Linked DNA regions of Homo sapiens: all the other regions are linked to region 3. The links come from fine-mapping of genetic effects on gene expression. A gene starts in region 3. Each other region holds a variant in brackets. All regions are shown on one strand. Distances are between the middles of the regions.

The links. PIP is the estimated chance that this variant, and not a neighbour inherited with it, causes the effect.
Region 1: its variant is fine-mapped to the expression of BOLA1 in whole blood (TOPMed, PIP 0.97).
Region 2: its variant is fine-mapped to the expression of BOLA1 in whole blood (TOPMed, PIP above 0.99).
Region 4: its variant is fine-mapped to the expression of BOLA1 in whole blood (INTERVAL, PIP 0.95).

What each region holds. Positions count from the first base shown.
Region 1 is chr1:149,681,966-149,687,115 of GRCh38, forward strand. No RefSeq gene overlaps it. Among named protein-coding and RNA genes, the nearest start is that of TRV-CAC1-7, 28 kb to the right of the region's middle. The variant G/A (reference allele first, on the strand shown) is at 2,160.
Region 2 is chr1:149,811,238-149,816,387 of GRCh38, forward strand. H2BC18 (H2B clustered histone 18) reads right to left here and starts at 1,133. Exons shown (of 1, transcript NM_001024599.5): 1 at 642-1,133. The coding sequence starts at 1,086. The coding sequence ends at 706. It overlaps H3C13 (H3 clustered histone 13), which reads right to left and starts at 2,456. Exons shown (of 1, transcript NM_001123375.3): 1 at 1,988-2,456. The coding sequence starts at 2,444. The coding sequence ends at 2,034. RefSeq lists enhancers at 793-872, 2,096-2,385. The variant C/T (reference allele first, on the strand shown) is at 1,960.
Region 3 is chr1:149,896,851-149,902,000 of GRCh38, forward strand. BOLA1 (bolA family member 1) reads left to right here and starts at 2,718. Exons shown (of 2, transcript NM_016074.5): 1 at 2,718-2,822; 2 at 3,160-3,945. The coding sequence starts at 3,210. The coding sequence ends at 3,623. It overlaps LOC124904412 (a long non-coding RNA gene), which reads right to left and starts at 2,698. Exons shown (of 2, transcript XR_007066597.1): 1 at 2,628-2,698. RefSeq lists an enhancer at 2,752-2,811.
Region 4 is chr1:149,841,982-149,847,117 of GRCh38, forward strand. It overlaps H2AC18 (H2A clustered histone 18), which reads right to left and starts at 769. Exons shown (of 1, transcript NM_003516.3): 1 at 237-769. The coding sequence starts at 717. The coding sequence ends at 325. It also overlaps the pseudogene H2BC19P and a transcript of H4C15 not described here. RefSeq lists an enhancer at 3,344-4,107. The variant T/C (reference allele first, on the strand shown) is at 2,192.

The DNA.
Region 1 (5,150 bases), 210 kb before region 3:
CCCTCATGAATAAAGCTATTTCCATCTCTAAACCACTCAACACTGGGGTTAGACAAGGGCTTGTCTTCAAGGTTGGACCTTCTAGAGTAGATCTCTTCCATGGTTTCCACCCAGGAGTCAATGAGTTGGGGATCTGTTTCTTGGGATGTGAGGTCCAGCAACAGAGTAGCAGGGTTTAAAAATCAGCATACTTTAAGGGTAACATCTGGGGTGTCAAGCAGAAGAGCCTGATATTTAAGTAACTGGCCCCCTATTAGCCATTGGTATACTTTTGCCTCTAGGACCCTCTGTACTGTACTTCATGGGGTGGTGGGGGGCGGGGGTGGTATGGCATCTACTTGTTGTCCCAAGGTAAACTTACTGGCTTCTTCTACCAATAGAGTGATGGTAGCCACAGATCTCAAGCTTCCTGGTCACTCAGCTGCCACCTGGTCTAGCTGTTTAGAGAAATAAGCCACTGGTCTGAGGCAATTCCTGACCCTTCGAGTTAGAACATCCAAAGCTGTCCCTTGTTATTCATCCACATAGAGGATGAAAGGTTTTTCTAAGTTCGAGAGTCTTGAAGCAGGGGCTGTCCCTGGCTTTTCTTTTAAGGCTAAGAATGCCTTTTGACAGGCTCCATTGCAATTCAAAGGCTTATAACCACTCACTTTTGGAGGTTCGTAGAGTGGTTTTGCTATGAGCCCAAACCTGGGAATCCAAACCCAGCAGAATCCAGCTATTCTCAAAAAGGAATTTGAGGGACCTGGAGTGCCAGGATGGTCTCTTTTCATCCCTGGGTCAAGATCCTGGTCCCAGGAGTGAGAATGTGTCCCAAATACGTGACCCTTTGGACAGAAATTTGGGCCTTTCGGGGGGATACCTGATACCCTTGTTTTGTTTCAAAATTAAGGACTTGAAGTTGTATGTTTCTCAGAGTCTTCCCCTAGTAGGGCTGGAAATTAATAGGTGATACACATATGGTAAGAGGGATCCATTAATTAACTGTAGTTCCCATACCTCTTTTGCCAATGCATTGCCAAACAGATGGGGATTGTCCTAAAACCTTGGGGACAGGACAGTCCAGGTAAGCTGAGATGCAGCATGAGTGTCTGGATTAGTCCATTCAAATGCAAAAATGTATTGGGTGTCCAGGTGTAAAGGTGTGTGAAAGAAAACATCTTTTAAATTTAATACTATGAACCAATAAGCATCTTCAGGGACTTGAGTTATTATTGTATAAAGATTAGGAACTATTGGGTGACTGGAACTAATGCCTCATTAACTGCCCTAAGATCCTGAACAAATCTATATTCCCCGTTTGGCTTATTAACAGGAAAAATGGGGGTGTTACGTTGGGACTGACAGGATTGTAATAATCCATACTTCATTATCAGGGGATGGATGGCCCTTGGAGCCAAAGGTCTAAAAGGATACTGGATTTTTCTTTTTTTTTTTTTTGAGTCAGAGTCTTGCTCTGTTATCCAGGCTGGAGTGCGGCGGCGCAAGGCTCACTGCTACCTCTGCCTTCCGGGTTCAAGCAATTCTCCTGCCACAGCCTTCTGAGTAGTTGGGATTACAGATGTACACCACCATACCTAGCTAATTTTTGTGTTTTTAGTAGAGATGGGGTTTTGCCTTGTTGGCCAGGCTGGTCTCAAACTCCTAGCTTCCAGTGATATGCCCACCTTGGCCTCCGAAAGTGCAGAGATTAAAAGCATGGGCCACCACACTTAAAAGGATATTTTTTTTCCCATAGATAATTAACACTGGGTTTCAAAATAACCTGGACTGGGAGAACATTTGCAGTTCTTCCAGGAACTACCATGTCACAAGCAGACGGGTCTACTTGAGAAGTAATATTTGATGGAAGGAACGTCTTTTCTTTATCTGTGTAAAGACATGAACTTAGAGCTAGGAGAAGTGTCCCTTCCCAGCCTGTGGCCTTCTCTTGAGGTGCTCCAAATGGAACTGCAGCCTGTTATTGGGAAAGTAAGTCTCTTCCCAGTAAAGGAATAAGGCACTCAAGACTAAGCAAAAATCTGTGGAAAAACATGGTTCCCCACAGTGCAACTAAAGGAATGGGTGAATCTCCTAGCTTTTAGCTGGTCATCAATCCTCATTACAGTACAGGAGTGGGAAGACAGCGGCCCCAAGGACTAGATCAGAACTGAGAAGGC[G/A]GCTCGCATATCCAATAACTCAATATTTTTACCCGCCATGTCAAGAATTACCTGAGGCTCTTCTGTAGAGATGGCAAGGTGTCTGGTGGAAGCTGTAGGGAATCTTGGGCCCTGTCAGTCCTCTGTTCTCTTAGCCATTAGGGGTCCGAGAAGCTCAGACTCCGTTTGGAGACTGAGGCAGTCTTTCCTCCAGTGGCCCTCTTGCTTACAGAAGGCACACTGATTCCAGCCTAGGGGATGATGAGCTGGCTTTTGTCTGGGCATCCCAAAGCCACTCTTGCAACACTTTCTCAGGATGGGCAGCTCAAAAGCAGTAGGAGGCTGAAAGCAGCTGCAAACAATTGCATTTTTTGGCTATTTCTTTTGGTTTTATCCTCTTCCTCTGCCTTGTCCCTATTGTTGTAAACTCCAAAGGCCATGTTTAAGAGTTGGCTCATGGAGTTTGGGGTCCCATTCCTGCCTTTTGTAACTTCCTCCTAATGTCAAGGATAGATTGAGTAATACAACGCATGCCCAGAAGAGCCCGCCCTTCCGGGTTGTCTGGGTCTACATTAGTATATTTCCTGAGTGCCTCAACCAAGCAGCCCTAAAACAGAATGGGATTTTCATCCTTCCACTGAGTTACTTCTCTATCCTTGTCATAATTAACTGGCTTAATCACACACCTTTTCATACTTTCTATTAAACAAGTTAGCATGTGATTTCTATGTTCAAGTTCTTGGGAACCCTTCTGGTAATCCCACTGAGGGTCTCTATGTGGAACTGCATCTCCCCCTACATAAATGGTATGGCCTTGGATATGAGCAGCTACTCTAACTGCATATTCACAGGCCAGTACCCAGAATCCCTCTCTTCTCCTCTATAATACAGGAAGAGGACAATAATATTTGCAAGTTGTGCCAAGTTAAATCAAAGGACATCATCAACCTGACAAACTCCTCTATAAACTTCCCTGGATCCTTCAAAAACCAGCCATATTTCTCCTTGAAGAAAGCCAATTTGGACAAAGGAAATGGCACATATACTCTGATTGTTCCCCTATCTCTGCCAGCTAACTCCAGCAATGGACACAGATTCAATTTGAGGGGCTGATAGAGAGCTCCACTCCTGGTGGTTCTGGTTGGGCTTACTTCCTTGGGCAGTGGGGGATACAGGCTGGAGCTAGCTAAATAAAAGGGAGGGTTTTCTGATGACATTGGGGTGAAATCCCACACTGGAGAACTGGCAGGACCCCTCGCAGAACTGGGGGACTGAGAAGACCCTGGAGAGGGCATGGGCCCTCCAGGGGGTGCCGCTAGGAAGGGAGCATCGAGGATATCCCACGCGGTTTCTTGGTGCCTGGAAGTAACATGAGCCAGACACATCCTGCAGTTGACTCTTAAGTCAGAATCCTGGTAGGGGGCCATAGAAGCCTGTACGTAAGGAACTTCTCCTCATTTTCCTTCCTTTTTACTGAATAAGTCCAATTGTAAAATAGTATGATAATGTAAAGAACAAGTTTCAGGCCAAATTTCTTGTTCTCCCAAGAAAATTGTTTCTTTTTCTTTGAGCCATCTCATTTGAATTTGCTCCAATTGCCTTAAAGACACCCTAGTGGGGAGTCCTTTGGGATGCTCGCCTTTGTCCCCATGTCTAACAAGGATCTCTACTACACCCAGAAGTTTTTCTAAGTCTAGCAAAAGCTCAGTTACTTTCCCTTTCAAATTCCCACCTCCTGCAGAGAAGATGTAAGTACAGTTAGCCAAGCGTTATGAAAGTAGATTATGAAATATGAATGCGAAGTAAAATGATGGGTCTGAATTCCACAGAGTGAAGAAAGCATTTTAGTTTGGGCAAAGAGGGGTTAAAAGAAACAAGGTGATCATGGAAGGGAGGAAGGGAAAGCATGAACAGCGTTGTCCAGACTGAGGTGCCAGAAAATCTACCCAGCAGCCACAGAGACTGAGGAAAAATATTTGGGCAAAATGTTTGGGTGGCTGCTGCTTGTCTGCCACTATGGGTAGTTGTCACTTGGGCCAGGGGTCCAGGAACCCCTGGTCCCTCTGACCAAGAGTTCAATATGGGCTTGAGCAAAGTCACGTAGGAGGGGGCCCACAACTGGCTGTTATGGAAAATCTTAATCTTTTAATTTAAGGGCGGAGAAGATGACATCCACACTCCTCCAGGGAAGGAGCTCTAATCCACAATCCTATAGGGAATGTCAATGCTGAAAACCCCAGAGCATCCAGGGAGAGGCCAACAGTGACAGTGGAACTCTCACCACAACGAAATGCCAAAAACCCAGAGTACCCAAGTATCAGCCAGTGATGGTCCCCACACTGAATGCTGAAACTGCAGGGGAGGCAATGGTGAACCCCAAAGGCCAAGTTAGGGGCCACTGAACAATGTGACTTTGGCATCTCAGGGTCAGCACAGTAAGGGACTTTTCACGACCAAGTGTCCTGCCTTAAACAGTTCTTGACTCTGTCCTGTCCTGTGTTATATCATGTCCTGTCCCATCTTGTCTTGTCTTTGTGGTCACCAGATGATGCAAGGAAGGACAACCCCAAAATTGGGGCTTAGCCCAGGAGAGTTCTTGGCTTTGCCCAGGTAAGAATTCAAGGGCAACCCAGCGGTGAAAGAAAGCAACTTTTGTTAAACTGGTACTGCTTCTCGTGGAGGAAGGCTAACCCATGGGCAGTGTGTGGGTTGCTAGCTAGCTGTATTTATTTAGATGCTTTTAATTAGATGCTAATTAGGAAGTGGGTTATTCAGAACTTTTTGGAAAAGGGATGAGGAGTTTCCAGAAGCATATAAGGTAACTTCCTGGCCATTGCCATGGCATGTTGACATGGCATTTATAAACTGTCATGGCACTGGTAGGAGTGTCTTTATGCTAATGAGCAGTGAGGGCAACTAGAGGTAGCTTTTGTCTCCATCTGCTGGTTTTGGTCAGCTTCTTTACTGCACCCTGTTTGGACCAGATCCTGCTCTGATCAACTGGGCCACAAC
Region 2 (5,150 bases), 86 kb before region 3:
CCATTGGATACTTCTAGCACCTCCCCCGCAACACACACACACCTGACAACCCAAAACATCTACAGATATTGCCAAATACTCCACAGGGGGTGGGGTGGTGGCAATATATCTCCCTGTTTGAAGTCACTGGAATGGAAGTTAGGGGAGGATGGCTAAGTCAGGACTTGCAAAAAGGCTAAGGGACGAAAGCACATGGCTATATTAGACAAAGTTTGTGACAGACGCCTGTAGGTATATGGTAAGGAAAACAGATTAAAACACTAAGAAATAGTAAGAGGTCGGACCGAGGGTTTCTCATCTGTATGGGAAATCTCATCTCGTTCATTACTTTCAGAAACAAAAAGGAAAACGACTTTAAAGATACAGGTTAAAGGCCGAAGGGGTGTAGAACCACCCCCCGCCTCCTTCCCTCCATCCCTCCCAAATATCCCAGAACGAGTCAAACCTTTCGAATCTCGTAGCACAGATAACAAGCAACTCAGTAAGACTGGACGGGGATGACTGAGGGCCAACTCATTACAGGACTACAGGAAACTCCTTAGTCCTAAACCCGAATGCATCCGTGACCATGGTAACACTCCCTACCTGACCAAAAGCTATCAAACGCTCTGACAAGTGTTTACAGCTGCTTTCTCGATTACTGAAGTGGCTCTGAAAAGAGCCTTTGGGGTTAGGTGGTTGATCTATTGCGTCCCTTGCACACTCTTACTTCGAGCTGGTGTACTTGGTGACCGCCTTGGTGCCCTCGGACACGGCGTGCTTGGCCAGCTCGCCGGGCAGCAGCAGGCGCACGGCCGTCTGGATCTCGCGGGATGTGATGGTGGAGCGCTTGTTGTAGTGCGCCAGGCGGGACGCCTCTCCCGCGATGCGCTCGAAGATGTCGTTGACGAAGGAGTTCATGATGCCCATGGCCTTGGACGAGATGCCGGTGTCGGGGTGGACCTGCTTCAGCACCTTGTACACGTAAACGGAGTAGCTCTCCTTGCGGCTGCGCTTGCGCTTCTTGCCGTCCTTCTTCTGCACTTTCGTAACAGCCTTTTTGGAGCCCTTCTTGGGAGCAGGAGCGGATTTCGCTGGATCCGGCATTTTTGCGCGAAAAAAGAGAAAAGAGACTTAAAGAAGTAATCCGAACTACCGCAAAACGGGCTGGTTATGCGCTACTTATAGAGCCCGTATGCAAATGAAGACTCGCAAAGTGCTGCGCTTTCATTGGTTAACTTACAACGGTGTCGTCAGAGGGGGTGGAGTCTATGTAAATAATAGATTCTAGTCTTGCTTCCTTAATGGTCACTGTAACAAAAGTCTTGTTATCCTATCAGAATGGTCCATTTCACACTAACCAGTTTTAAGCTAGGTGAAGCGATAGTTTCTACGGCTTGGGGTTTTTTCTTGGTTTTCACTTTCCATTAGACTTGCATACGGAAGAAATCTTAACGCCAGCTAGACAAGTTAACTCTCTTGCCTCGTTTTTGCATTTTTATTCTATACTTTGTGGAAATTTTTTTCTCTTCCTTGAAATACTACCTCACCCATTTTTAAAAATCGCCAGATATTTACTCCCGCCCGCTTAAATTACTATTCTGGCTTGGACACCGCCTGTAGTATGCAATGAGGAAGATGCTGAGCTTTAATTAAGCTTATAGTTCCTAAATAAACCAGGAAACGGGTTTATAATTTTTAAGGGACTCGCCCCACCCTTACACTCAGGATCTTCCACATCTAGAAACTCCCCATAGTCTCTTGCCCCCATGCAAAACTTTACCCACAGAATTGGGAGCCGGACCTCTAGCCTTAAACCAGCGTGAAAACGCTCGGCCGGAACCACAAGGACCATGCCTCTGCGGCTTTCTCTACTGCCGGCCAACTCACGGCTGGGCTTTGGGTTCTGTAACGTCACCCACCACGAGTGCCCCTGGCCCCTGACCGCTGCGCAAGGCAGACGCACATCAGATGGAGAGC[C/T]GGTACAGCTGCTCTTGATGAAAACGGCAGTGGCTCTGAAAAGAGCCTTTAGATCGACCACTTAAAAATATGCCTTAGGCCCGCTCCCCGCGGATGCGGCGGGCCAACTGGATGTCCTTGGGCATGATGGTCACGCGCTTGGCATGGATGGCGCACAGGTTCGTGTCTTCGAACAGCCCCACCAGGTAGGCCTCGCTGGCCTCCTGCAGCGCCATCACGGCCGAGCTCTGGAAGCGCAGGTCCGTCTTAAAGTCCTGCGCGATCTCGCGTACCAGCCGCTGGAAGGGCAGCTTGCGGATCAGCAGCTCCGTAGACTTCTGGTAGCGCCGGATCTCCCGCAGAGCCACGGTGCCGGGCCGGTAGCGGTGCGGCTTCTTCACCCCGCCCGTGGCCGGCGCGCTCTTGCGGGCCGCTTTGGTAGCCAGCTGCTTCCTCGGGGCCTTGCCGCCGGTCGACTTGCGGGCAGTCTGCTTAGTACGGGCCATGCTGTCTCATTGATAGGAGAGGGTCTAGGCAGTCATATTTATAGACATAGTCTCCTCTTGATTGGGCCTGAAAAGGAAATTTTCAAACTTGTGATCTCATTGGTTAAAATTCAATCCTCTTTACTGGGGCGGAAGATTGTTCTGCTAATCTTTCTTCCCTTATTATTTCCCCCTTTCCTGATTTTTTTCTGTAATTTTATCGATCACGGATTGTTTTTGAAGACTTTCCTTTAAATTAGTCTAACTTTTGTAAAAGCAATGTATAAAGTGTTTTGCATCCCATTTTAACAGAGATTTTTTTTTTCCCCGAATTCAAGCATGCCCTTCTATGAGCTATCAGCCTGTTTCAGGTTACCTGTTACTGTAGCTCTTCTACCATAGCTAACATTTATTTCATGTCTGGCATTTTGCTCAGCAAGTTAGATGCATTGTATACCATGAATGACCGAAGCTTAGCAAAAAAATATGTAATTGAAGGAATGAAAAAATTGATCTTATTTACTTGACCTTGGAACCCAGCCAAAGCCATTTCATGTGGGTAGTGTGCTGACCTATATTGACCTGATATTAGAGCCTCTGCCTTCCTTTAGTCTTTTCTCCCTGCGATGTGGTTCCTTCTTCCTCAACCTCACATCAATGGCCAATTAGGTCCTGCAGATGTTAAGCTTCTAAATCAAAGAAGGACAACACCAGAAATTCATTTCTCCTTTACAATGTAGAATAGTTTGTAAATTAGTGCTTATTAGCCAGATTACAAGTTCAAGTTTCAAAGCAAATTATTCATCAATTGCTGACTTGCTAACATTTTATTCAATAAAGTATTTTATAATGCTTAAAAGTTTAGTTTTTTTTCTGTTCTCTATGAAGAGAGTAAAGATGCTTTGCTTTTTCAATTTCATGTGCTTTGAAGTATGTATTGTTCAGAACAGTAAATATCATAGTGGTTATGTAGAAGCAACTGATACTTAAAAGTTGTAGTAGTTAATATAAAACTTTTAATCATATCCTTATTTTACTAAAAAAATCATTACAAACTATAAAAACTCAAACCTGAGAAAAGCAGGCCCGAAACGCTTAAAACTTACTTTGATGGTGTCATTATGAACTATCTTCCTACTGAAGTCAAAGTAAAGTAAAAGTGATTTCAAGGGGACTTCCTGAACACTAAACACAAAGTAGAAATCTGTGAGCTTAATTAATATCTTCAAGAGTCTCTCATGGGCAGAAGCATCCTCCTCTCGAGAGATCTAAAATGTACAAAAGTGTAACTGATGTGAACAAATGTTATCCCTCTCTGTGGTAGTTTTGTAATAATGCCTTACAGACAGCAGGCACTACTCAGTGTTTAAAGTTCTTCTACATACACTTTATCATTTAATCCCTACTCTGTGAAATAGATGTTACTCTTCTCACTTTACAGATAAGAAAACTGAGTCTCAGAGAAATTATGGCTTGTCCTGGGTAAGTAACAAAGCCTGTGTAATATTCTAAAGCAAAAGAATGAAACTGTAATGATGAAACTTTCTATTTCATTAGGCTTAGAGGATACCTTTTTTTTTTTTTTTTCATTTGAGATGGAGTCTCACTCTGTCACCCAGGCTGGAGTGCAGTGGTAGGATCTCTGCTCACTGCAGCCTCTGCCTCCTGTGTTCAAGCAATTCTCCTGTCTCAGCCTCCTGAGCAGCTGGGACTATAGGCGCAAGCCACCACCCCCAGCTAATTTATTTATTTATTTGTATTTTTAGTAGAGACACGGTTTCACCATATTGGTCAGGCTGGTCTCGAACTCCTGACCTCAGGTGATCCACCCTCCTCGGCCTCCCAAAGTGCTTGGGTTGCAGGCATGAGCCCCACGCACCCAGCCAACACAGTTTAAAGCACAAAAGCGTTTTCCCATCAAGCAATCACATCATCTAGTATTTCTCAAACATCTACACCCAACTATTCCCATTAGAAGGGAAAACTACCCCATGGAATCTGGATGATAGCCCAAAGCAGCCCACCCAAGCATCACATTTCTTTGCAATATACTTTCTCTATGATGTATGCAGTCTTGACCATAATGTAGGATGTGTTCATTTAAATAAGAAAATGGCATTCAATCAGACTTTAATGGCTATAGGTATCATTTCTCAGAATAAAACAATCAGATGTATAGTTGCCTTAAAAGTCATCTTTAATAACAGAATTCAGATCAATTGTTAGTTCAATTTCACCTAGTCCCCACATTGGACACTAGAGTGACATTTCTGTGAAAGGTCTCAATCCACCACTATATCAGAAGCAACTTTATGGTGCAAAAGAAGCTCTGCTTTTCTTCAGTTGTAACAAAGACGGAATATTCCTCCTAAAATTTTTGAAGTGTCCTTCAGCAGAAATTATAAGGCTGTGCAGCTTGAATACTGAGAACAGAAATTTCATTAGGTAGCACGGGGGAATAGACAAGAGAAGATTAAAATTTACCTAACAAGAAATAAGAAGGCAAAAGAAAATATTAATAAATGAATTATTACGCACATAATGTTTTGTATGTACATGTGTTTACTTTTAATACAAAAGTAACGGACTAAGTTAACATAGATGTTCCAATAAGATAATTTATGTTTCATTTTTGGCTTCAAGTATCCTCAGGGTTATAAGTATCATAAGCTGAGACCAGCTGAATTGGTTTGTGGGTTGATGAGGCCCTATGCCTGATTTGAATTT
Region 3 (5,150 bases):
GGCAGAAGGGACAGAAGGGGCCAACTTACCCCCTCAAGCTCTTTCAAAAGGCGTTAGTCCATTCTTGAGGGTGGAGCCCTCATAGCCTTATTACCTCCTAAAGGCCCCACCACTTAATACCAACACCATGGATTAATTTTCAACATGAATTCTGGAGGAGACATATTCAAACTATAGTAGACACCAATGAGACAGTTGGGGAAATCTGAATATCAACTGTATGTGATTATAGTATTGTATGAATGTTAAATGTCTTGGATGTGGTAATGGTATTGTGGATATGTATGAAAATGTCCTTGTTCTTAGGAGATACACATTGAAAGTACATAGCAATTAAGTGTAAAGAATTTTGTGGGGCCAGGCGCAGTGGCTCACGCCTATAATCCCAGCATTTTGGGAGGCCGAGGCGGACTGATGACCTGAGTCAAGACCAGCCTGACCAACATGGAGAAACCCCGTCTCCACTAAAAACACAAAATTAGCCAGAGTGGTGGCGCACGCCTGTAATCCCAGCTACATGGGAGGCTGAGGCAAGCAAATCGCTTGAACCCAGGAGGCGGAGGTTGCTGTGAGCCAAGATCGCACCATTGCACTCCAGCCTAGGCAACAAGAGCGAAACTCCATCTCAAAAAAAAAAAAAAGAATTTTGTGGCTGGGTGCAGTGGCTCACGCCTGTAATCCCATCACTTTGGGAGGCTGAGGCAGGCAGATCACTTGAGGTCAGGAGTTCCAGAGCAGGAGGATCACTTGAGGTCAGGAGTTCCAGACCAGCCTGGCCAACATGGTGAAACCCCATCTCTACTAGAAATGCAAAAAAATTTAGCCAGGTATGGTGGCACCAGCCTGTAGTCCCAGCTACTCAGGAGGCTGAGGCAGGAGAATCACTTGAACCCAGAAGGTGGAGGTTGCAGTGGGCCAAGATGGCGCCACTGCACTCCAGTCTGGGCAACAGAGTGAGACTCTGTTTAAAAAAAAAAAAAAAAAGAATTTTGGGCCAGGCGCAGTGGCTCACGCCTGTAATCCCTGTAATCCTGGGTGGCCGAGGAGGGTGGATCACCTGAGGTTGGGAGTTCCAGACCAGCCTGATCAACATGGAGAAACCCCGTCTCTACTAAAAATACAAAATTAGCCGGGCATGTTGGCACATGCCTGTAATCCCAGCTAATCAGGAGGCTGAGGCAGGAGACTTGCTTGAACCCAGGAGGCAGAGGTTGCAGTGAGCCAAGATCACGCCATTGCACTCCAGCCTGGGCAAGAAGAGCAAAACTCCATCTCAAAAAAAAATAAATAAATAAGATTTCTGCACCTAACTCAAGTGATTCAGCAGAAATAATTATTATTATTTCATTATTATTATACACACATACATTAAAAGAGATACAAAGCCAAGTCTGGCAAAATCTTATCAGTGAACCTAGGTGAAGAGTGGATAAATGGGTTGCTCATTGTATTAATCTTGCAAATTTTCTGGAAGTTTTAATTTTTTTTAAAGGCTAGGGAAAACAGTGTATGTCATAGTTTAAATTTCTTGAGTGTGATAAGGTTATTGTGGTTATGTATGAGAATATCTTTGTTCTTAGGAGATACATATTGGAGTAGTTAGGGGTGAAATGTCATGCTATCTGCAACTTACTTTCAAATGGTTCATCCAAAAAAGCATATAAATATATTTTAAAGTATATGTAAAGTACTTAAATATATGAGTATATATGTACAAGTATAAAATAAATATAAATGCAAAAAATGGTGGGTCAAGTGAAAGGTAGAGGGTGTTGCTTTGAACTATTCAACTTTTCTGTGGCTTTGACATTTTTCAAAATGAGAAGTTGGGGAAAAACATTTAGAAATATGTAAATATATTAAGGATACAAAATAAAATTTAAATAATTTTACAAGTTAAGAATCATCCTGGAAAAATTACATCCTGTTACATCCCTGCTTAAAACCTCAGTAGCTTCCCACTACTTCTAGGATAAAGACAAAATTGCCTAACAAGGGCTACAAGGCCTGGGGTGGTCTGGCCCGTTCCTCTCCTCCTGGTACCCTACTCATCACCATCAGCTGCCCCCTAGGCTCCAACCACACATAACCACACCCTAACTACACCAGAAGGAAAGACTCCCTCAAAATTCTCTCTCCTCCTGTCCTTTACACATGCAGCTACCAAAGCCAAAACCTCACTATGAGGGACTGAGAAATGGATTCTCATGTTGTTTCTGCTGAACTGTTTCCCTAAATCTCGGAAATATTCTCTGCCCGCCTCCCATTCCACCTCTCCAACCCCGGCCAAGTCTGGGTAACTTGCCTCCTTAGCATCCTGTGTTTATCTCATCGTAGCACCTAGTACCCAGTATTGCAATTGTCCGCTCACTTGTTAGTCTTCAGTGCTCTGTTGTCTCCTTGAAAACAGGGCCTGACTTGACTCCCCAGTCCCCAGCACTAGTCTGGGGCACAGTAATTATGTATTCAATCAGACTTCCATTTTCTTGCATATAAAATAAAGGAGTTGGGCTGGATGATCTACAAGATCTATTGGCAGTAAAATAGATCTAATAATCCCAATCCCAACTGCGCGTGAATTCCCTTTTTCTTTGCATTGCTGGGTTCAGACTTTCTGACCACCTTACCAGTGGGGAGAATCCGAGACTACAGTTCCCATGAGCCCTCAGGGCACCACGTGGTGCCTGCCCGTGCTACCAACGCGCAGCGAGGACTCCATTTCCCAGCGTGCCTCAGGAAGGGCGCCAGGACTGCATTTTGCTCCGGAGCGTCCAGAGTCCTGGCCCTGAGCGGGAATCGCAGTGGCCGAGGCTGAGCGGCAGGTAGAAGGGGCGTCTCCGGGGCTTCACAGGGAACACAGGGGCTTCGGCCCAACCACAAGTACGCAGTTGCACATGCCCTACTTTTGCCCATTCTTTGCAAATCCCCTAAGGAACGAACGCGCCTCGCGTGCGGGCCTTTCTAATCTTCGCTTGTCCCTTCACTTCCACAGCTGGAGGTCGAATTCACCACGTCACGTAGAGAAAAGGGGCGGTGTCTCGGGTCTCCCCGTGTGGCATCAAGGCGGGCTCCCTATAGGAGCTGGTGTGGACGTCCGGGCGTGGGGTTAGGGCGGATGCGGGGATCGCGGGGCGGGTGTTGACATTGTGCTCTCACCAGGCGGATCGCCCCGACCCTCACTCCTGGCGTCTGAGTCTCTGGCGTAGCCCATGCTGAGTGGGCGGCTGGTCCTGGGTCTGGTCTCCATGGCTGGCCGCGTTTGTTTGTGCCAGGGCAGCGCGGGATCCGGGGCCATCGGTCCGGTGGAGGCCGCCATTCGCACGAAGTTGGAGGAGGCCCTGAGCCCCGAGGTGCTAGAGCTTCGCAACGAGAGCGGTGGCCACGCGGTCCCGCCTGGCAGTGAGACTCACTTCCGCGTGGCTGTGGTGAGCTCTCGTTTCGAGGGACTGAGCCCCCTACAACGACACCGGCTGGTCCACGCAGCGCTGGCCGAGGAGCTGGGAGGTCCGGTCCATGCGCTGGCCATCCAGGCACGGACCCCCGCCCAGTGGAGAGAGAACTCTCAGCTGGACACTAGCCCCCCATGCCTGGGTGGGAACAAGAAAACTCTAGGAACCCCCTGAACCCCAAGAGAGGGAGGACCAGGATCCGAATGGGCTGGGTGAGCACGAATTACCGAGGCCTTCCCTTTGATACAGTCCAGGATTTGTAAGGGATGAAGACCCCTGGGCCCCATTCTGTTGGGGTCCATACATACTCTCCGAAGATAGCAACTTGCTTCAGGTCAAAGTGAACCCGAGAAAAGAGAAGAATCACTCACTACTGCTCTTGCCCTGGACTATTCAGGAAGGGCAGCCCGGATGTTCCATGTTAAATCGTGACAGAATTGCACCAGACCTGATGAGTTGGAAACAATCCTATACATTAAAAGAAATTACACTATGAGGCTGTGTTCTTAATGGACTGCTGAATCAGTGCCACAGGTGTTCTTGGGAGAAGAAAGATACTTGTAGACTAGTCGGGAAGGGCTTTATGAGGGAAGTGATCTAGTTGGATCTTTAAAGGAAAGCACAAAATTAACCAGAAAGGAGAGGATAGGTGCTGCAGGCAGGGAGAAGAACCTGAGCAAAGACATAGACGCTGGACTGAGAAGTGAGTTAATGGACAAGACAGGGGATATAGGCAGGGACACATTTGAATTTCATCTTGAGGGGGGGAATGTTTGGCTTTTTTACAGCCTGTTCATTTCCAAAAAGTAGTATTTGTATTTGTTTAAAAGAAAAATGTTTTTAAAAACCACTAAAGCAGTGAAAAGAGGATAAGAACTAAGAAAATGATTACAGATGATGAAGAAACCTTTATATAGCCTTTTTTTTCTTTTCTTTTCTTTTCTTTTTTTTTTTTGAGATGGAGTTTCGCTCTTGTTGCCCAGGCTGCAGTGCAATGGCACGATCTCGGCTCACTGCCATCTCCGCCTCCTGGGTTCAAGCGATTCTTCTGCCTCAGCCTCCCCAGTAGCTGGGATTACAGGCATGCACCACCACACCCAGCTATTTTTTTGTATTTTTAGTAGAGATGGGGTTTCACCATGTTGACCAGGATGGTCTCAAACTCCTGACCTCAGGTGATCCTCCTGCCTCAGCCTCCCAAAATGCTGGGATTACAGGCGTGAGCCACTACCCGTAGCGTTTTTGTTTTTGTTTTTGTTTTTGAGATGGAGTCTCACTTTGTTGCCCAAGCTGGAGTGCAGTGTCGCGATCTCAGCTCACTGCAGCCTCCCTCCGCCTCCCAGGTTCAAGCAATTCTCCTGCCTCAGCCTCCCAAGTAGCTGGGACTAGAGGCTTGTGCCACCACACCCAGCTAATTTTTTGTATTTTATAGAGACAGGGTTTCACCATGTTGCCCAGGCTGGTCTTAGACTCCTGAGCTCAGGCACTCCGCCCACCTCAGCCTCCCAAGGTGCTAGGATTATAGGCGTAAGCCACCATGCCCCGCAATGTAGCCCTTTTTGAGCATTACAGATATTGTCATATTTCTGAGGGGAGCTCGAGTAATGTCTATAGAAGCAACTTTCCAATAATCTCAATGTGGAAATTATTAGAGAAAAAAACTTGGTTAACATATATCTTTTTTTTTTTTTTTTTTTTTTT
Region 4 (5,136 bases), 55 kb before region 3:
TGGTGCCTGCACCTGCCCTGGGAAGTCCTAGGACTGGGGACCCACTCATCGAAGAGCCAAGGCAGTTACGTGCTCCAGATGGAAGACGGCGCGCACACACACACACCCCGCCCCGCCCCGCCCCGTCCCGTCCCGTCCCGTCCCGTCCCGTCCCGTCAGCTCCAGGTTCGCTATTCACTACTGAGGAACGCTGGACTGAGAGTGGCCAGCATTAACAACTCTTTTATTTGAAAACGTGGGTGGCTCTGAAAAGAGCCTTTTGAGTTCACAGGTGCCCCTTCGAGACGCGGGCCGGGCTGGGCCCACTTGGGCCGGACGTCAGCCTCACTTGCCCTTTGCCTTGTGGTGACTCTCCGTCTTCTTAGGGAGCAGTACGGCCTGGATGTTAGGCAAGACGCCGCCCTGGGCGATGGTGACTTTGCCCAGCAGCTTGTTCAGTTCCTCGTCGTTGCGGATGGCCAGCTGGAGGTGACGAGGGATGATGCGCGTCTTCTTGTTGTCCCGAGCCGCGTTGCCCGCCAGCTCCAGGATCTCGGCGGTCAGATACTCGAGGACCGCAGCCATGTAGACGGGCGCGCCGGCCCCCACTCGCTCCGCGTAGTTGCCTTTGCGCAGCAAGCGATGCACTCGCCCTACCGGGAACTGAAGGCCAGCGCGGGACGAGCGCGACTTGGCCTTGGCGCGGGCCTTGCCTCCTTGCTTGCCACGACCAGACATGACAGCGATAGTAGTCACCGAGAGAAACTCCTGCCTGGCGATCGGGAAAGTCGCCGAAAACGCCGCTGCTTCACCTTTTTATAGACAGAACGGCGATTGTCCACGGAGCACTTTGATTGGCTCAAGCAAATTTTGTCCCGATAGCCAATAGGATAGCTCAGCCAGAATCCACTCATTTACATAATCTCGTCTCCCTCGCATTGCGCGCCGCGGAAAACTCGCGAACCATAACGCAGCGTCATGCGCACAGCCTCTGTAAGTACACAGTCGTTTCCGGTAGACCCCGAGCCTACCGCTCTGCTTGCGTTCTCGGGGGTCGGTGTCGGTCTTGGGTCTGGCCATGCCTGAGCCTGCAAAGTTCGCGCCGGCTCCCAAGAAGGGCTCCAAGAAAGCCGTCACCAAAGCCCAGAAGAAAGACGGCAAGAAGCGCAAGCGCAGCCGCAAGGAGAGCTACTCCATCTACGTGTACAAGGTGCTGAAGCGGGTCCACCCCGACACCGGCATCTGGTGCAAGGCCATGGGCATCATGAACTCCTTCCTCAACGACATCTTCGAGCGCATCGCGGGAGAGGCGTCCCGCCTGGCGCACTACAACAAGCGCTCCACCATCACGTCCCGGAGATCCAGACGGCCGTGCGCCTGCTGCTGCCCGGCGAGCTGGCCAAGCACGCCGTGTCCGAGGGCACCAAGGCGGTCACCAAGTACGCCAGCTCCAAGTGAGTCCCTGCCGGGACCTGGCGCTCGCTCGCTCCCTCCCTCCCTCCCTCCGCGGGTCGCCGGCTGCTTTGTCTCCAAAGGCTCTTTTCAGGGCCACTTAACCCCGTTAGTGAAATAAGCTGTTTTCCCACTGCTTACTGTGAGTTCTACTTAGGGGTTTTCCCTCAGCACCTATCCCTTTTCCTGCAGATGATGGGAGAGGAATATAAGATAAAGCTATAAGATGTAGCTTGGTCGAGAACTACCTTGTAGTGACAGGGTCATGTGCACATAATTTGCCTTTTCCAAAGTGAGACGATATGCTACGGGTGCGGTCAATGTAAATCTGCTCAGGAGAGTCAAGGGAAAAAGTGTTAACTGCATATTGAGCTCGCAAAATTGTGTAGTAACCTGAAAATATTCCTAATAGTTTTGCGACCAAGCCTCACCATATAAACTTTCCTTCCGCACCTGTAGACCTCCATTCTGTGGTTGAAGCAATTTTTGGTTTATATAGCTCTCTTGTCTCAATTTGGTATTCCTTTCAGGTACTGTGAGTCTATAGGTATTTATTTCTGGGTTTCAAGACGTTAAATGCCATCAGAATTGAGTAATGCAAAGGCTGCTGTCATGGATAGTAAAGCTTTTTAGTCAAGTGCTGATAGACAATTCCCCATTGTTATCGTTGGGTATTTTACAATTTTCTGGGCAAGAAATGTAATGAAAAATTAAGTAAGTTTTAAAGGCCTTCGTCTTTGAGACTGGATACCTAAAACAA[T/C]AGTGTTTCCTAAACAGTTAAAACTTATTTAACCCTGAAGCTTTCGAGACACACAAATATATACAAATATATATTGTATATTTCTTAAACCCCACATAGTTCCACTGATCTAAATCACTGGGGGCGAGAGGCAAGGATAGACAATCTATGACACAACACCAGGTGATTCATAAGTTTGGTAACCACTGACATTTGATTATGCAGTTGCCATATTCCTTAGTAAGAACCTGGTCACAATTTTCACTCACTACCCCAGGCAATTCCCCCTCCCCACACCCCCCTTTTTTCTGAGAATTTCAGTGAGATATACAAAAGTTTCATTTAATCCTTTATTAATTCCAGACTTTATATATTTTTATTAGGATTTAAAATACATTTCAAAAAGATCAAGTGAGAACAGAAGATAAAAGTACCAAGATAAAGGCATAATACAAACTTAGAAAATACATGTTAAGCATACTGCGGCGTCCTGGTAGCCCCTTGCTTTTGTTCACTTTTTTCTCTTATGTACCTACATAAAATCCCAAATAGTATCTTCCAGGATGACACACTTGCTGTCTGCCCCACCCAATTAAAAACAGATTTTTTAGTTATTAGGTATTGTGCTGAATCTACCTTATTTTATTGCCAAAAGAAAAAAAAAAAAAAGCTTTTCAAAGCTTCATCCCCAGGAAACATTTTCCTGCTTTTACACATACCTTATATGGCTCTACTGAGAGATAAGGCCTAAGCCTGAAAAGTTAATTTAAAGCATGGAGGTAGGGGTGAGACAGAAAGACAACAGGGAAAAGTTGAGTTTATAAGGTAAGTATATATCTTCCTTTTAACAGCCACCTGCATGGCGTTCGGTAAATAACCTAATTATATGTGGGGGAAGGTAGTGGTCAACATTTGGTCCTGGGGACTGAGAATAAGAGCAGGAAAGCAATAAACAGCTAACTATGAGAGTGACTTAATGTAATTATATTACCTGTCAATCGCTACTTTTCCTTTCTTACCAAAATTCACACAGGTATGAAAGCAATATGACATTCAGGCTCCATTATGTGTATTTGTGCACATCACTTCCCACGATAAGGGAGAAGAAAAGAAACCACTGCACATTCGGATAAAACATGCTGGGAATACAGCAGTAAACAGAATAGAAAAAGTCTACATTTTAATTAGCAGATAAGTAAAAATAAGTGACTAAATGTATATTATTCAGGGGGCCATATGTGCAATTGCTGTTAAGTAAAGCAGAACATGGAGTGGAGTAGGGATGACAGGTTTCATCAGTTAATACTTGAGCAGAGAGCTGAATACAGTAAGATAGTTGTAGGATATCTTGAGGCAGAGTATTCTCAGAACAGAACATGGTAAGTACAAAGGCCCCAAGGCAGGAACAAGCTTGGTGAATGTGAGAAATATGCAAGCTGGTTAATGTGGCTGAAGCACAGTGACCAAGGGAAAGTTTTACAGAGATCACGGAGGTGCTTGAGGGCTGGATTATGTAGGCCATTAAGGAGCATCACAGGCCACTGCAGAGATTTTGTCTTTTAAATGAGATAGAGTGCTCTTGGAGAATGTGACTGGAGAGGCCGATGGTAGCAGTGGAGATGCAGAGTAGTAGCCGAGATATTTTAAATGAAATTGATTTAGTATAGGCTGACTGAAAGAGAAATCAAGGATTAATTGTAGGTTTTTACACTGAGCACTTGAAAAGAGCTGCTATTTGCTGATATGAGTAAGGAGTAGTCTTGGAGGAAGAAAACCAAGAGTACTGTTTTGAACAAAATGTTGAAGACTCCTGGTAAATATCGAAGTGTAAATATCAAATAGGAAGTCAGAAATATGAGAATCTGGAGTTTAGGAAAGAGAAGGGGGTTAGGTTTGTAAGATCTCATATCAGTCTGATTCTTATTTTTTTGTAGATAATCTACCCTTTCTTTCTGTAAATGTTTAGAAGCATGATGTCTATGTGTGTATATATACACACACACTCACTCCCCCCCGCCAGGACTGCCTCAGTTTTCATCTCAGTATTTGACTAAAACCTTCTATTCAACTTCAGTTTCAGCCTTAGAATAACCAGATGTCTAAGTCAATGTCATTTGGGGCATCTCTAGACTTGTGCAATCACAAAAGTCACCATTACCGCTACATAGTACGTATTATGACCAATGGATATCATTCAGAGTTCTAGTTTACATATGCTATTATCAAACATATGTAAGCCTTTTAATGTAACTTGGGAGTGAAATTAGTAAAATTCTATCAATTTACATAAATTAATTTTACTGTAAAAATAAAATACATTATGAAAGTTTCTGTACTAATGTCTTTGATTACAATTTTTAAAGTATTTCCCATTTTTTTATTTTGAAAATTTTAAACCTACAGAAAAGTTGGAAAAAAAAGTACAAAGACCAGCCATAGTCCCTTCACCTGGATTCACCAATTATTACAATTTTGCTGCATTTGCCTTATCTTTGTCTTCTCATGTACACAGACAGCCTCTGAACCATTTGAAAATAAACTGCAAATATGTTGGCACTTCTCCCTAAATATGGTGGCATGTCTCTTAAAAATAGGATATTCTCCTAAATAGCTACAATCACATTATTACACCTAACAAATTTAATGCTGATTCAGTAATATTAATATGCAATCCATATTCAAATTTCTCCAATTATTGAAAAAATTCTATATAGATGTTGTATTAGTTTCTTGTGGCTGCTGCAACAAATTACTACAAACTCAATGGTTTTAAAACAACAGTCATTCTCTTACAGTTTTGGAGGTCTGAAGTACAAAATCAATTTTACTCGGTAGAAATCAAGGCTGCACTCCCTCCAGAGACCTTAAGGGAGGGTCTATTTCCATGCCTTTTCCAGCTTCTAGAGGTTTATTTCTGGTTTATGGTCCCTTCCCTCTGTCTTCAAAGCAAGCAGCCTATTAATCTT